Linked DNA regions of Homo sapiens: region 2 is linked to region 1. The links come from fine-mapping of genetic effects on gene expression. Tissue or cell type: amygdala. Region 1 holds a variant in brackets; the other region holds the start of a gene. All regions are shown on one strand. Distances are from middle to middle.

Region 1 (8,000 bases):
ACCAGTATCTATTAACATGATACTGTAATTATTTATACATATATTCTCCATGTGAAAAATTAACTTAAAGCCAGAAACTCTTATTCTTCTTTCCTTTCTTTATGCTAATTAAAGAAGTTTTTGAAAGTAAATTAAGACAAATCTCTTTTAATGCTTATCCATTTAGGAATAAAAGGACTACGTTGAATAACAGAAGTTTCTATACAAGTTAACAAATGAGTAGTTAGCACTTTCTTTGAGATTACATAACTTCTTCCCAAATTGTTATACATTGTTAGTAAGAGTTATATATTTAGTAATTTGTCCCTTGAGAAGGTTCTTGGTTCTCTGGAAGAGGAAAAATTCATAATGACCAGTTAATGATGTCAATGTAGTTGATTACTGTTGTTAGTAGAGTATACAAATTAATTTCCCCCAACTCCATTTTTCTCTTGCTTCTAGTCCCCATAAAAACATAAAGAATAGTTTTATTCTATCTGCAGCTTGTAAGTATTCACAATGGTACATAAAAGAAACACACAGAGTAAAAGTTTGACCCTGAAAGTTGGGAGAATGAGTAGCTCTGGATACCTCTAAATTGATGCGCATTAACCCAAGTGCAGGCATATCTTTAACTGTTTTTTATTGAAACTATTAACACCCATTTCTCTGCCTCTTTAAACAAAACATCAAGAATATATTTAAAGGTCTTCCTGATTTCTGAGTCATCATTACTTACACAAGTATCAATTATTGAGCTACATCTCAATACCTCCTATAGATACTATTGCCCCAGACAGTAAGTACTCCATATAGACTGTTGGACCAGACACGGTATATATCATTACCAAGACATAGCAACAGGGACAATATTATAGACTAGTGTTTGTCCTCTGTTCCTACCTATTCATTTCCCCAGAGTTGAGGAAGGAGTTATGTATTTATCCAACAACCTCACTTCTCTATCTTCTGTCTTTTCTATGCTTCTTTGCTGAGGTGCCACTTGCGCTACCACTACAATTTCTATCACTTCTAACCAAAACACTTAACTCTGCTGCTCTCTTCTGTCTTCTCTGCTGCTTTCAATCAACTGCCCATCCATAAGAATGCAAAAACTAATTACTAAAAAACACAGCATAATACTATGAAAGCACACATTTATTTTTTAAATCAACATATATTTATAATAAATTCCAAATAAACTTTAGAGTAAGTGTGTTGAGGTATGCAAAAAATCTTACTGAAATTTTTACTGTGGTTGCACTGAATACACAAATTAATTTGGGGAGAACTGGCATCTTTAAAACATTATGTCATCCCATGGTAATTCTCTTCTATTAGTTATGTCTTTTTTCATATCCTTTAATAGAGTTTCATAATTACTCCATAATGATCTTTTGCATTCTTTTTAAAGGTTAGCTACTTGATTGTTCCTATTACGAATGTTGCTAAGTCAATTTTTTAAAAGGGGGAGGACTTGCCCTATCAGACTTTAGAACACAGTGCAAAGCCACTGTATAAAAAACATTGATACTAAACACAAATAGACAACTGATCAATGAAATATGAGAAATAATTCGTACATAGTAAGTGTGTACTACCAATCAGCAGGAAAAGTGCAAACTGCTTGTATTCTACAGGAAGAAAAATAAAATCACCCCCCACACCTCACAGCCTATACAAAGGTAAACTCCTAAGAAATTACAGACCCAAATATAAAATATAAAATTATAAAGCAAATAGAAAATGGAGAGGGATATGTAATATCGGGTTAGAAGAGCATTTCTTCAGACCACAAAAACACAAACCACAATGTGTTGATTTACATGTTGTGACGTGATGATTTAACCACTTGAAAATTAAGGATTCCTTATCAAACGCAGCTACGATGGACAGAAATAACAAATTATAACAACATCTAAAACCAACACAGGTTAATGTCTAGAATATTCAAGACGCTCCTATTGAGTAGGCAAAATGGACAAAGGATATAAATAGCCAATTCATGTTTATTTATTCAACAAATATTTATAGAGAACTTACCTTTTTAAGTGCTAGGGATACAGGTGTGAACACAGGTAAGGTCTCTGCCTTCAAGGAACTTGAGCAGAGAAAATAAATAAATACATAACATAATATAAGGTTTTGTTGTGATAAAGACAATGAAAGATAAAGCAGAACTCTCTGGGGACATGACATTTAAGAAGAGATCTGAATGGAGTGAGTGAGCCACGTGAATAAGGGGAAAGAGTTTTTTAGGCATAATAAAACAGCAAGAATGGGAGGTCTTAAGGAGAACAGAAAACAAATACGTGAAGAGATAACTAACCTCACTAATAATCAGAGAAATAAAAATTTAAATAATATACCACTTTACAAATGAAAGATTGGCAAAAATATAATGTAAGTTAATACAGAGTGCCAGTGGAAATGGAGGAAAAGAGAACTACTATGTACTCCTAGTGAGAATGTACACTAGTACAGACATTCTGGAAATCAAGTTGGCAAAACTTAGTGAAATGAAGTATATGTATATATACCCTATTATCCAGAGATCCCACTCTGAAAAATCAAAGTTCTCCCAAAAGCCCATAAGAGGACATGTATGAAAATGAAAATCAAAGTTGTCTGTGGTAGCAGAATATTACAGACAAACTAGGTGACCATCACCAGAGGGCCAGAGATGTGGTAAGTGCATTCACTGACATACCTAGAGCAGTTACAAGTTATGAAACAGATATACAGAGATCCAAATGGGTAGCGGTTTTTTGATGTTTTTGGCACTGAAATACAGTTTTAAAAAGTCTCAGATTTGCTTCAAAATAATACAGTTTGCAGAGGTGGAGTTGTGGGGAGGAGGCACTAGGGGAGGAATGGTTAATAATATGAAGCAAGATCAGCTCTGAGCTGATAATTGTTGATGCTGGATGATGGACACATGGTGGGTTGATACTTTCTCTACATTTGGATCTGTTTGAAGTTTTCTATCATAAAAGGCATTTTAACATGTTGAATGAAAAAAGAAACAGAAGATCTTTAGCACAATATAATTTATATAAATTAAAAATATGTGTGCATAAAACAGCACCATATATTTTTTAAAGAGACAGACATATTCAAAAAAACATTAGTACGAACATCTATGTAGGCAGAGAATTAGAATGAATACTGGGGATAAATGAGAACTATTTTAAATAAAACAAGAGAGGAGTCTTGCCAAAAGCTGATAGTCTGTCATTAATCTGAGGAGTTTGATGAATTCAACTTTTTGCACCTGAGGTCAGAAAAGAAACACTGAACAAATACAGAGCCCTCCGGGACCACATAGGAGATGTAACTAAATCTGATTTGGGAGGAGGGGGTATTCCTGCCCCATACCTTAGACACACTGAATCATAATCTCTGGGATCAGGCCAAAGGTTCTACTGTTCAATTTCCATTTCAGAGGAGAAACAACAGTACAGTAAGTGAAATAATATTCCAAGCTCACAAACCGGCAAGTGAAAGGGGTGGAATTCAAGCCCAGGGCCAGAACTGCCACTGTTATTCACTGTGCTACCAATGCTGCACTATTATACTTAAAACCTGCATACTATTACCAACTGAAGTTCCTAAACTGTTATTGTATCCCACAATGACACTGCTCTTAGCAACCACAGAGAAAATTAAATTCTATATAGTTTATATACCCCCAATCATCCTCATCTACTTTTTCAACAAATATCCCACTTTTCTCCAAGATAAATCCTCTCTTCCAGTCACACTAGTCCTCCCTACTGCTTCCAGGATACCCACAACACTTCTAAGCAGTTTCTCCAAACTAAAATACCCTCAATTCCCTTCTATATTTATTTATATCCCATTCATCCTACACGGTCCAGTATGCAGAACACTTTCACAGCATTAATTGAATGAACTAAAGTCCCACAGCTGCTCCATGAGGTTTCCCTGATGACTTCAGCACATACCTTTTCCTCCTTTAATTTCTTTTGCACTTACTCTGTACGCCATTCAATTAGCACCTTATTACAGTAACACCCCATTTATCCAGCGTCATTGGGAAAGGAAAGTGTTCATCAGAAGCAAATTTTCCAGAGAACCTAAGCATTAATTTAGGAAGCGGCAAAATAGAGTGAAAATAGTGCCGACTTTAGTTACAAACAGACCTAAGTTCAAATCCCAGTTCTGCCACTTACTAGCTAAGTGTCTTTGGGCAAATATCAACAAACCTTTCTAAGTCTGTTGCATTGCCTATAAAGTAGAATATACTACTAACTTCACAACATTGTTGGGGGTATTAATCACATATGAAGAATATGGGCCAGGTGCAGTGGCTCACGCCTGTAATTCCAGCACTTTGGGAGGCCGAGGCAGGCAGATCACCTGAGGTCAGGAGTTCGAGACCAGCCTGACCAACATG[G/A]AGAAACCCTGTCTCTACTAAAAATACAAAGTTAGCCGGGAGTGGTGGCACATGCCTGTAATCCCAGCTACTCAGGAGGCTGAGGCAGGAGAATCACTTGAACCCAGGAGGCAGAGGTTGCAGTGAGCTGAGATCGCACCATTGCACTCCAACCTGAGCAACAAGAGCAAAACTCCACCTCAAAAAAAAAAATCTCATGCAACATTCTTTAAATCATGACTACAACTATTAGGCACTAATGCATTAAAATCATTTTATGGAAATATTCATCAAATGCGTATAATTTGAGATTTTTCTCAGAGGACAGTAAATATAAATTGAGCATCTCTTGATAACTCATAATTCATTCAACATTTGCTCATTCAATAAATATTTAACCAGGGCCAACTATAGGCAAAGTGACTAAGGATTCAAAAGAAAACATGGTAAACATGGTCCCTGCACTCATGGAGTTTAGAGTCTACTAGTAATTAACTAATTTCACTTTGTGTTACAGGATACAAGTGAAACAAGGTACAGGGTGGAGAATAAGGGAGGACCTACTTTAGAAAGGATGGTCAGGGAAGGCCACTGGAACCTGATAGATCAAAAGAAGCCAGCCATAGAAAGGGCTGGGGAAAGGGAACACTGTCCTGAGGTGTCACAGGGCTAGCATATTCAAGGACTGAAAGAAGGCTATGGGGGATCAGGAATAAAAGGGAAAATAGCAAGAGATGTGTCTGCAGAATTAGGCAAGGACCAGATAATTCAGCGTCCTGTGAACCACCGTTAGTCTAAGTTTTATTCTAAAGGTAATGGGGAGTGACATGACAAGATAGATAATGTAAATGCAACAAGCATTTCAGGAACAGATGACTTTTTCTTATCCCTTTTTGGAGTTACCATTGACAAATCTGACTTAGCACTTCCATTTCAAAACAAAAACGGCGACAATACAGTGCAATGATTTTCAAAGTTTTACTTAAAAGGGCAGCATCTTTTTTTAAATAAATAAAACATTTCATCTAAGATGGCCTCTCTTGTCCTCATTTCATATTATGTCACCTCCTTCAGTTCCTTCTATAACAGAGTTTGAAAACATTGGTATAGAGAACATTGGTCGAGGAGTCAGAAAATTTCAGTTATAGTCCTGACTATGACTTAACAGCCATATAACCTTGTGCAAGCCACTTAATGCCTTGACTCAACTTCTCCTTTACTAAAATGGATATAATGCCTGACATGCTTACCACACACAATAATAGTGTGGATCAGATGCAATAATTTGGGCGAGGAAAGCTGTCAACATCGAGAATGTAAACTAGAAACTATATATCTTACAGATTTTGTAATAAATTCTGGTTGCTTGATTGATGTCTGAATCATTTTAAAATATTAAAGCTCCAAGCATGAATTAACTTGCGCAAATGTCCAAGCCAATTAACAAATTAGTGGGTATGGCATTAAATGAAACCAACGCATCTACTGAATCCCTACTAAAACTGAGGCCCTATGCAATGCTATAACCAGTAACAAAGAAAAACTAAATTTGATGTTTAATAGAGAATGAAGTTTAATTTTTAAATTACTTATTGAGTCTTAAAAGTCAGTATTCTGTATTTTAAAATTAAGAGAATACCTTTCAAATGTCTCACCATAAAAAATGATAGGTAAGAGAGGTGATATGTTAATTAGCCTGATTTAATCATTCCACACTGCATACATATATCAAAACACCGTATTGTACCACATAAATGTATATAATTATTTTTCAATCAAAAATATTAAAAATAAAAATTATAATGTTAATGGGTTAAAAAATAAATATGCTGTCCTCAATTTCTCAATACTTTCAAAGTGTTAAACTTACTCATTTTTATGAATCACTGAATTAGGTTATATTTGCGCATAAAAAGTTCATCTGAACTAGCCTACCTTCAAATAGGTTGGCTTCTCTCTTTAAAAAAATATAAAGAAATAACGTGAAGATAGGAATTTTCAAGCAATTATAAAACAATGTGAAACAGTAAATCCCCTTTGCAGCAATTAGAAATAGGAACTGGATATACACACAGCAAAATGGGTAGGTCTAAATGATTTCCTATGGGGCTGGGGGTTGTAGAAATGAGGAACAGGTATAGAGAATAAATGAATGAGTAAATGAATGAATGTCAATTAAACAGCAGAAAGGCCTGACATGAACCAATGATAATACCATGCCATGAACTGAGGAGTATTAACTCAATACTCTATACTTAAAGGCTTACTCTCATAGTATTTAACACTATGAGTATTAGGTTGTGATTCATAAAATGAACATGTTTCATACTTTAAAAGCACTGAGAAATCTAGGACAGCATATTTTTGCTTTTTTAACCTTTAATTATATTTATTTTTAATATTCTTGATTGAAAAGTAATTGTATACATTTATGAGATACAATGTGGTATTTTCATATAACTTGTAAGTTATATATAAGCTAGACTTAGACATCTACACTTACAGAGGGTTGACTGAGAAATAAGTGGTTATATAGATAGGTCAAAATAAATAGTTATATAAATAGGCAAATACACTAGATAGACTAAATCACATAATTTAAAATACCTATTCTAAAGGATTGACCCTTAATTATTAATCTATTTTTAATGTAAAAGATATAGGGTAACAATTTTAGAAAATACAGATATACAAAGTAAATCTTGACAGGTATTGGAGAAAGGAAAAGATCAGATTTTACCAGTGGTTATTTCTTTTTTAATTAAATGAGATGAGGGATTTCTATCCTGTTTCATGAAAATAAATCACAAGTACTTTTTACTCTATTTTTAAAATGAACGCTTCATCATTACCAAAATTACAGAGTAAGTGTACTTTTAAAAGAATTTTTTTTTTGAGATGGAATTTCGCTCTGTCGCCCAGGCTGGAGTGCAGTGGCACGATCTCGGCTCACTGCAACCTCCACCTCCTGGGTTCAAGCAATCCTCCTGCCTCAGCCTCCCAAGTAGCTGGGATTACAGGCGCCCGCTACCACGCCTGGCTAATTTTTATAACTTTAATAAAGGCAGAGTTTCACCATGTTGGCCAGGCTGGTCTCGAGCTCCTGACCTCAGGTGATCCACCTGCCTCGGCCTCCCAAAGTGCTGCTATTGCAGGCCTGAGCCACCACACCTGGTCTTGAAATGTTTACATAGTCAAAAACATCTAAAAATCTAAAAATCTACAGTTTTACTTGAGCTTCAGCGAAAAAGGCAGGAGATTCTCAAATACATTTGTTCTTGGTATAATATAAGTCATAATATAAATTATAGGTCATAATTCTGATTTATATCTTATCTTTTAATTTTCCATTGACTAGATTTTAAAAAGAAATACAATCTGGTAGAAAGGAAAGAAAAGACTTTTTACAGCTCAGTCCAAACTAAAGTAGAAACTCAGGTTCCTTTTAAGTGATGAAATTGAAGCAGTTTCATATTGGATGAGAGATGAGCCAAATGATGAACATTTTACCTCCAGAATATTCTTCACTAAAAACGTACTTAATAAGCAAATGAAAAGAAAATAATTTCTAATATATTTTTATTGTGCACACAGAAAATTTACAATCTTAACCATTTTTAAG
Region 2 (8,281 bases), 250 kb after region 1:
CTGCATGTCTATAGCATATCCTTCTGGGTTACCAGATTCTAGCCTTGTTCCTTGTCTTTGCAATATGAGTTCTGACAAATGCATAATGTCATATATCCACTATTTCAGTATCATATATCATAGTTTCACTGTCCTAAAAAATGCCCTATTCTCCATGTATTCATCTCTTCCCTCTTTGCCTCCCTTCCCCCAAACTCTTGCAACTACTGATCTTTTACTGTCTCTATAGTTTTGCCTACTAGTGTTTTTTTCTCTCACACTTTTAAGTAAGTGCTATGCACACACAGCTTCAAGACAAGTTTCTTATCTCTGCCATCCAATCAGATTACCTCCTCTAACTCTTTTATATAATTTATCTTTTCCTAAGAACCTCCTGGAGGGTGGTGGAAGAGATCTGCCTACTATAAGCTGCAGTAGAGATAGCTTTTGTTCCCTAGTATCTATTCTTCTCTTCTTTCTTTTAATAATAAAACAATCCCACCCTGTCAAGGTTTGACTGAGCCCATGGCTAGATGCTACATTTTCTTCCTTCCTTGAATATAGATGTGACCTATGGGATATGAGCAGAAAGGATATATGCATGCAAGTAATAAGAACTGACAAAATTGAGAAAATAAGACATTTACCATGGAACTTTAAATTTGTATCCCTTTATAGGACCATACTATTGAAAGGATATTATGAATTATATTTTAAAATAAATCCTGTAATTATATTTTGAAAGACACATTTATACTGCTTTGTAATTTTTGGTAATAAAAGTGTTTATTGGTTAAAGGAAAATGACTTTGAATGTAATGCAGTTTGTATAACCCTGTTTTGAATTAAAAAAAATTTACATGAGTATCAGAAAACTAAAACAAAAAACAAAAAAGCTGAAGTTTCAAGTTTTAGAAGACTCTGTGTGAAACATGAGCATTAAAGTATAATGGACAAACAAAAGCCTAAAACAATGAGAAAAAAGAATGGCCGCATCTGTAATCCCATCTGTAATCCCAGCACTTTGGGAGGCTGAGGTGGGAGGATTGCTTGAGGCCAGGAATTCCAGGTTACAGTAAGTTATGACCAGGCCATTGCATTCCAGCCTGGGTGAAAGAGCGGGAGACTTTGTCTTTAAAAAAAAGAATGGCCACAGAGCTGGAAGGAGAATCAGGGGACTGGGTTTTACGTAAGTGAAAGGAAGCAAGACTTTTTAGAAGTGAGCAACATGTCCAAATGAAACAGAGAAATCTAATAAAATAAGTATTAAAAGAATTTAATAATTAAGATATTATAAAATGGGTATGTCATGAAGTTATGAGATTAACTATGTACATATAAATCTTCTGGAATATAATAGGCGTTCAATAAATTTTGTGATCAATTCCTTGTTTTATTCAAAGAATACTTACTACTAGTTAGGAATATTGGGACTAGAAAATAATACCCCACAATGAAACTCTCAGAAGCAGCCTCAGAAGCAAAAGTTTTTCTCTGACCTTCTCCTGCCTTCCTGTCTCTTGGTCCCATTCTCCCCTGACACTAGCCATAGAAACTAGGCAGGCCATAGAAACTAGAACCTCTTTTCCCCAAAGCCAGTCATAAATCCTGGAAATATTACTTTAATTTTCTCCCGCCTTTCTTTGTAAAAACTGGCCATAAAGAAATTATCTGATCTACCTTTTTTGACTGTAGGTCCTAAGACCCTCATTGCAGAGAGGGTCCCGCCCTACACCCAGAAGGAAGGAATGCATGCCCAGAGAGTCCAAGAAGAATCTAGACAGACAGGCCTTGCTGGGTTTCCCCACTCAGGCTATTAGCATTAGAGCATACCCTTTTGTCCAATCATATTTCTACATGGCTGTCCATACTTTGTTGGATGTACAAATGAACATTACAATTTCCCCTGTATCTTTGGGTCTTCATTCTGAAGGTTCTCATGTATATATGCTAAATAAACTTGCATGCATTTCCTCCAATTACTCTGTCCTTTGTGAGTAGATTTTTCGGTGAACCTCAGCGATCAGAGAGGAGAGCTACAGGAGCCCTGCTTGAACCTTGAAATGCTATGATGACAGACCGTAGCCTTAAAGCAGTTTATAGTGTTGTAGGGTAAACACATAAACAGGCCAATATCATTCTTTGCCATGAGGGATATGATGAGAGGAAGTACATGGAGGTTAACTGAGTTATTTCTTTTAGTTTCTTTGTTTTTGGCATGTGAATTATGAAACTTTAAAACACCTCCAGTGCAAAAAAAATTTTTTTTAAATTAACATGGTGGTTGGTGCACTGTGTTTCTAAAATATGGAGTACAATGTAAAGCAATGCATTCTTTTTTTAAAAATTTATTGTTATTTTGAAAAATTTTTGTAGAGATGAGGTCTCACTGCCTTGCCCATAGCTGGTCTTGAACTCCTGGGCTAAAGCGATCCTCCTACCTCGGGCTCCCAAAGTGCTGGGATTACAGGCGTGAGCCACTGCGCCCAGCCGCATTCTTGTTTTCATCTGTGAAATACGTTTTTAAGGTAAATACTTAAAGTTGATGGAGACACCTGGTCTACTTAAGCTCTCATTCAGAACACACTGCCTTGTGCTTTTAAAAAAATTAAATGGATAATCTAAATTGGCAGCTACCAATTAATTTATATCCATAGTTGCTAAAAAATGTTAGTGTAAGTTCATTTTTATTAGTCGCATCATTTTGAGTTTTAAACTATTTCACATGCAGTAAAATTTATACCTCTTATGGGTTTTGTCAAACAGTGGTTTAGTCACCAACACAATCACGGTATAGAAGCTCTCAAGCTCCTTTTCAGTCACCCCCTTCCTCCAGCCCTTTGCCCTGGTCGCCACTGATCAGTATTCTCTCCTTTTAAAAACACTTATTATTTGGAAATAATTATAGACACAGGAAATTGCAAAAATACTACAGCACCTAGAGTCCCGTGTACCTATCACCTAGTTTCCTCCAATGGTGACATCTTACACAACTGTAGTACAAGATCAAAAAACTATGTCATGTAGTTTGAAGGCAGGTTTTCCTTTCACTTCTTCGCCTGCATTTTCTCCTTTCATTTCCAACAAATTTAACTCTGTTGTTAGAAGGAGCAGATGCTAGTTTTCTTTCAGATGTCTGCTATTTCAGTTCGATTACCCCTGTTACTCCTACATTTTTTCTAGTCTTTATCCCCATCGTTTCGCCCCAATTTAATTTTGCTGCTAGTTTTTTTTTTTTCTCCTCTGGGATATGTGCCACAGATGGTACTATTGTCAATATTCGAATTCCTAACTTCTCCCTCCATCCGTAAGTTTTCAAGGGGTAGCCGTGCTTGTGCTTAATTGTGGTGTTTACAGGACTTTTTGTAGCGTAAGCATGCTGGCATGGTTCCCCAACCTCTTAGGGGGATGCTAGTAACCCGCTCCCCCGTCAACGAGCCGCCTTTGTGCTCCGCGGAGGGCACCGCCTGCGTTGGGTTGGAGGTGGGGGTTGGCGGGGGAGAGCTGCCCGCCAGGCGAGGGGCGGGGCCTTGGCGGGGGTGGTCGCGGGCGGCGGGGAGGTCTCGCTTCCCTCCTCTCCACCCGCTCCCAGTCCCGGCCTGGGTCTCAGCCCCGCCCTGCCCAGAGCGCGCGGCCGATCACGTCACCGGCCTGCGCTAGGCGGCCCCCACGGCGCGGGAAGGCGCAGTGCGCACGCTCCGACTCGGCCGTGGCGGACCTGACTGAAGGAGGCCGCGGACCTGACTGAAGGAGGCCACGGCCACTTCTGGTTGGCCTCGGGGCGCGCTGGCTCGGCTCTTCCTCCGCCCTCGAGGCCCCCGCAGTCCCATCATTCAGTTCCGTAGGGTCACCGGCGCGGCAGTGGCCTCGCAGGGCGCTGGGTCCCTCTCCCCAGCTCTCCTCCCCCTGGCCCCGTCGCCCCGCCCTCGCCGGGCTGGGCTGCGGGGTCAGGGGCCGAGCGGAGAGGGGTGAGTATTCCCCACAGCCCTTGCCGGTTGTCTCCTCCCGGCTCTGCTTCCCACACGGTCCTTGCCCCACTCCTAGGACAGGGAGGAAGGGCACGCGCGGGTAGGCGGGAAACAGCCCAGTCCTGAACAAAAGGCCGGGGAAGCGGGTCCCCGCCGGTAACTGCAGGCCTGTGCTGGCCGCCGCGAGCGGGGAAGGGCGAGGACACTCCCTCCTCGGGGACCCGGTCCCCGTCGCGCACACGGTGTCACCAGCACACCTGGCCCAGTACCCAAAGCACCCTCGAAGTGGGTAGTAACTACTTTGTGTTTAAAATCCACATACTGATAGCAAATCTTTGGTTGAAACAGTATTAAATTACTGGGGCTTCCAGTGGCTGAGTCCAACTTAATTTGAAGTTTCAGATTAAGTATCAGGAGGAATAACTTGATATTTAGAGCCAACAGGTCTTTCTTTTTTTTTTAAACCTCCCAAAAAACCTATAAAATCAAGAATTGGCGGGGAGGACCGGAGAATGATAAAGGAATAGTTGACTGATTTATAGAAACTTTTAGTGGCGGTAAAAATTACAAAAGTATTGGAAATAAGGCAAAAGGACAGCATGTTTTTTTCAGAGTCAAAATGGAGCCTAACAGGCCCACCTGAAGATGATTTAGATGTCTAGGGGACTATATTTTGTTTGGCATGATGATATTGATTAGGGCCTAGGCTTTGTAGTTAACATCTTTTTCATTAATGGAGATGCAAATTATTTCTGAGTGGGAGAGAAAAAAATACAGTACTCCTAAAGGTTGTAGTTTTAGTGCCTTGTAGGATATTAGCCATTTTTCTTTTCTTTTTTTTGAGACAGAGTCTTGCTCTGTCGCCCAGGCTGGAGTGCAGTGGCACGATCTCGGCTCACTGCAACCTCTGCCTCTCGGGTTAAAGCAATTCTCCTGCCTCAGCCTCCCGAGTTGCTGGGACTACAGGTGCCCGCCACCACGCTCAGCTAATTTTTGTAAGTTTAGTAGAGACGGGGTTTCACCATATTGGCCAGGCTGGTCCGGAACTCCTGATTTTGTGATCCGCCTGCCTCGGCCTCCCAAAGTACTGGGATCACAGGCGTCAGCCACCGCGCCCGGCCAATATTAACCATTTTTCTGTCTAACCTATCAAACTTACCATCCTTTCTTCAGTGTTTATGCTCAGTTCCTGAAATGCTTTTGAGCACACTAAGCCATTCAGCTTGTTCCATTGTGAGTTTAATAAATCTTTGTCACAGGTTCATTTTGAGTCATATTTATAACTTTTGTTATTGGACAATGGTCTCTATTCTTTAGTGGCAAAAACAAGTTTATGCTTCTCAGGATGGAAGGACATAGGCCCTGTGTGGTACTCAAATACATCTTAGGACTCCAAGTAGAATCCTTTCTCATTGCTTCAGAAAGGTTAAACAGTGACCAGAGGAAATGTTACAGAACTTTGACCAAAAAATAAATCCTGAGTATTGAGAAATTAAAATTAAAGTCTTGCAAATTGCAGAGTTTAAAAATTGTTATTGATATTTTAAATTGAAGAAATTAGTGGAAATAGTAGTTCTAAATTGCATACATTTGAATGTGGAGTGTTAAAAGATTATTTCCCTTGTCTCCTGTTTTATTTAGGATAAGGTTAACTGAGATTTTGGTACATGGTGGGCCATTCAAGTTATGTATAATGTTTTGTGACAAACTACATGTCGACAGTAGTTCCTGATGCCTAATACATTTCTGAGAAAGGTAAAGCAGCCCTTTAGGAAAAACAAGGAGAGTAAAGCTTACAGAAGATTTCTTAAGATGGGCTTGATTTGATTATCTTTGAAACCTAGAGATGTGTTTGGGACCCAGGAGGTTGTGTTTGAATCATAAATATAATCAGGGAACCTTAAGAAAAAAAAAGCCATGGAGATCATTTGGTGATTATCTATTGAAAACAAATGTTTTCAGGGGACAAGCAGCCTGAGTATAATAAAGCAATTAGAAAGTTGGGGAATGGAGAATAGGAGAATAAGCTGTACCTGAAGGAATCTTAATTAGGGAATGGTTGCTGAAAACTGCAGAGACAAGACTTCTCTAATGTGCTTACCTGATCACATAGTTTTATAGGATCCAGGAAGAGGGCTTAGTAATAGGAGTGTAGCTTTGAAGCTAGGGTTATTTCATATCACTGTCATGTAACATCTTTCTGAGAAAACCTTTTTATCATCTCTTCTGAGCTCAAGAACCTACACTGGTTTCCTATTGCCAATTGTTTTAAATGGAATCTCCTTTGGGTTTTTTGGTTTCTTCTTTTGGTTTTTTAAGAAGTGGGGTCTCTAAGTTGCCCAGGCTGGAGTGCAGTGGCTATTTAGAGGCACAATTAGAAGGCACTACACAGCCGTGACTCCTGGCTCAAGCAGCCCTCCTGCCTCAGCCTCCTGAGTAGTGAGGACTAAAGGCGAGAGCTATGTCTCCAAGCTTCCTTTGAGTTTTAAGACTGTAAACTTCCTGCACCCTGTCCCCAGATTCTCAATATCCCTCAATCTATACTCTCCATTCAGGTTCTTTACTGGTCTACCTCATTTCAATCTGTTCCAAGGTTCACTGCCACTGCCCCATCCCTTCTATTTCTTTCTTTCTATATCCTCCTATAATTCAAGGATTAACTGAAATCTAACTACTGTAGGGCCCAGGCTCTGGTTCCAGACTTCCTTAGGTCAAATTACTACACTTAACAGCTGTGTTACCTTGGACAAGTTACCCTCTCTGTCTCAATTTCCTTATCTATAAAATAAAGAAAATCCTAGTAATTTACCTCAAAAAGTTGCTCTGAGGATTTGTTACTAGTTCTTAATACATAGTAATATATGCAATTTTAATTATTTTAATCCATACTAATTCTTTAAACAGTGGTTGTACAATTTATCACTGTTTTTTGTTATCCATTATTCTCTGATGTTCTTTTCAATGTGAATCTTTACTTAAAAATTTGATTACTTTGAGAAGAATGTGTATTCTGAAAAATAAAAAAATATTTGGTTACAAACTATTGAAGGCAAAGACTGTATTATACTTCTTTTTGAAAGTCTCTTAAACCAAGGCTGGGTACAGTGGTTCATGCCTGTGATTCAGCACTTTGGGAGGCTGAGGCAGGCAAATTGCCTGAGCTGAGGAGTTTGAGACCAGCCTTGGCAACATTGCAAAACCCTGTCTCTACAAAAAATACAAAAAATTAGCTGTGCATGGTGGTGCACACATGTGGTCCCAGCTACTCAAGAGGCTGAGGCGGGAGGATTGCTTGAGCCTGGCAGGTGGAGGTTGCAGTCAGCTGAGATGGTATCACTGCCCTCCAACCTGGGTGACATAGTGAGACCCCCCTCTCAAAAAAAAAAAGTGTCTCAGACCTCTCAGGATGATTTGGGGGCTCAGTGTAATATTTTTTTCTTCCCATCTTACTATCTAGTTTTCTTTTTCTTTTTTGTTTTTTATTGTACTTTTGTAGCTTAGAGTTTTAAATTTAAACTCAATTTTGTTCCAAAAGTATTTGAGGTAGCTTAAACTATATAATATATAATAACATACAAAATAAAGAGAATCAAGATCATAAAAATATGAAGCTTGAATAGAAAGATGTGATTAGGGTGAGTTATACTGAAAATATACTGTGAATGTTGTAGAGTTATTTATTTATTTATTTATTTTATCTTTTTTTTTTTTTGAGATGGAGTCTCACTCTGTCGCCCAGGCTGGAGTGCAGTGGCGTGATCTCGGCTCACTGCAGGCTCCGGCCCCCGAGTTCACGCCATTCTCCTGCCTCAGCCTCCCGAGTAGCTGGGAGTACAGGCGCCCGCCACCTTGCCCGGCTAATTTTTTTTTTTTTTTGTATTTTTAGTAGAGACGGGGTTTCACCGTGTTAGCCAAGATGGTCTCGATCTCCTGACCTCGTGATCCGCCCGCCTCGGCCTCCCAAAGTGCTGGGATTACAGGCGTGAGCCACTGCGCCCGGCCTGTTGTACAGTTATTAAAGGTAGGCCACAAAGTTCCAAGCTTCATGGTGGTCAAAGGAAAGAAGGAAACATATTTATTGCCCAGCAAAAACAGCTTCCTGTGTTAAAATAATTAATTGGGAGGCCATTGCCTGAGGAAGCTCCAGTGCCCTGGGTTCCTACATAAACAGACTTACACCAAACTCAGTGTAAATGGTTGTATTCTAGGAAAATGAAACTTTAGCTTAACCAATCAGAAACCATCAACTAACCTCTAACCACTGACTTTTACTGGAATGATCCAAGTAAGGCTACTCCACTTTGACCAATCACAGATTTTCTTGGCCTTGCTTC

What was found. PIP is the estimated chance that this variant, and not a neighbour inherited with it, causes the effect.
Region 2: ATG10 starts here. The variant in region 1 is fine-mapped to the expression of ATG10 in amygdala (GTEx, PIP above 0.99).

The regions. Positions count from the first base shown.
Region 1 is chr5:81,722,970-81,730,969 of GRCh38, forward strand. The region is part of intron 1 of SSBP2 (single stranded DNA binding protein 2); the gene reads right to left. Among named protein-coding and RNA genes, the nearest start is that of SSBP2, 24 kb to the right of the region's middle. The variant G/A (reference allele first, on the strand shown) is at 4,400.
Region 2 is chr5:81,968,360-81,976,640 of GRCh38, forward strand. ATG10 (autophagy related 10) reads left to right here and starts at 3,664. Exons shown (of 8, transcript NM_031482.5): 1 at 3,664-3,947. RefSeq lists enhancers at 3,197-3,754, 3,755-4,310 and silencers at 3,325-3,654, 3,825-4,064.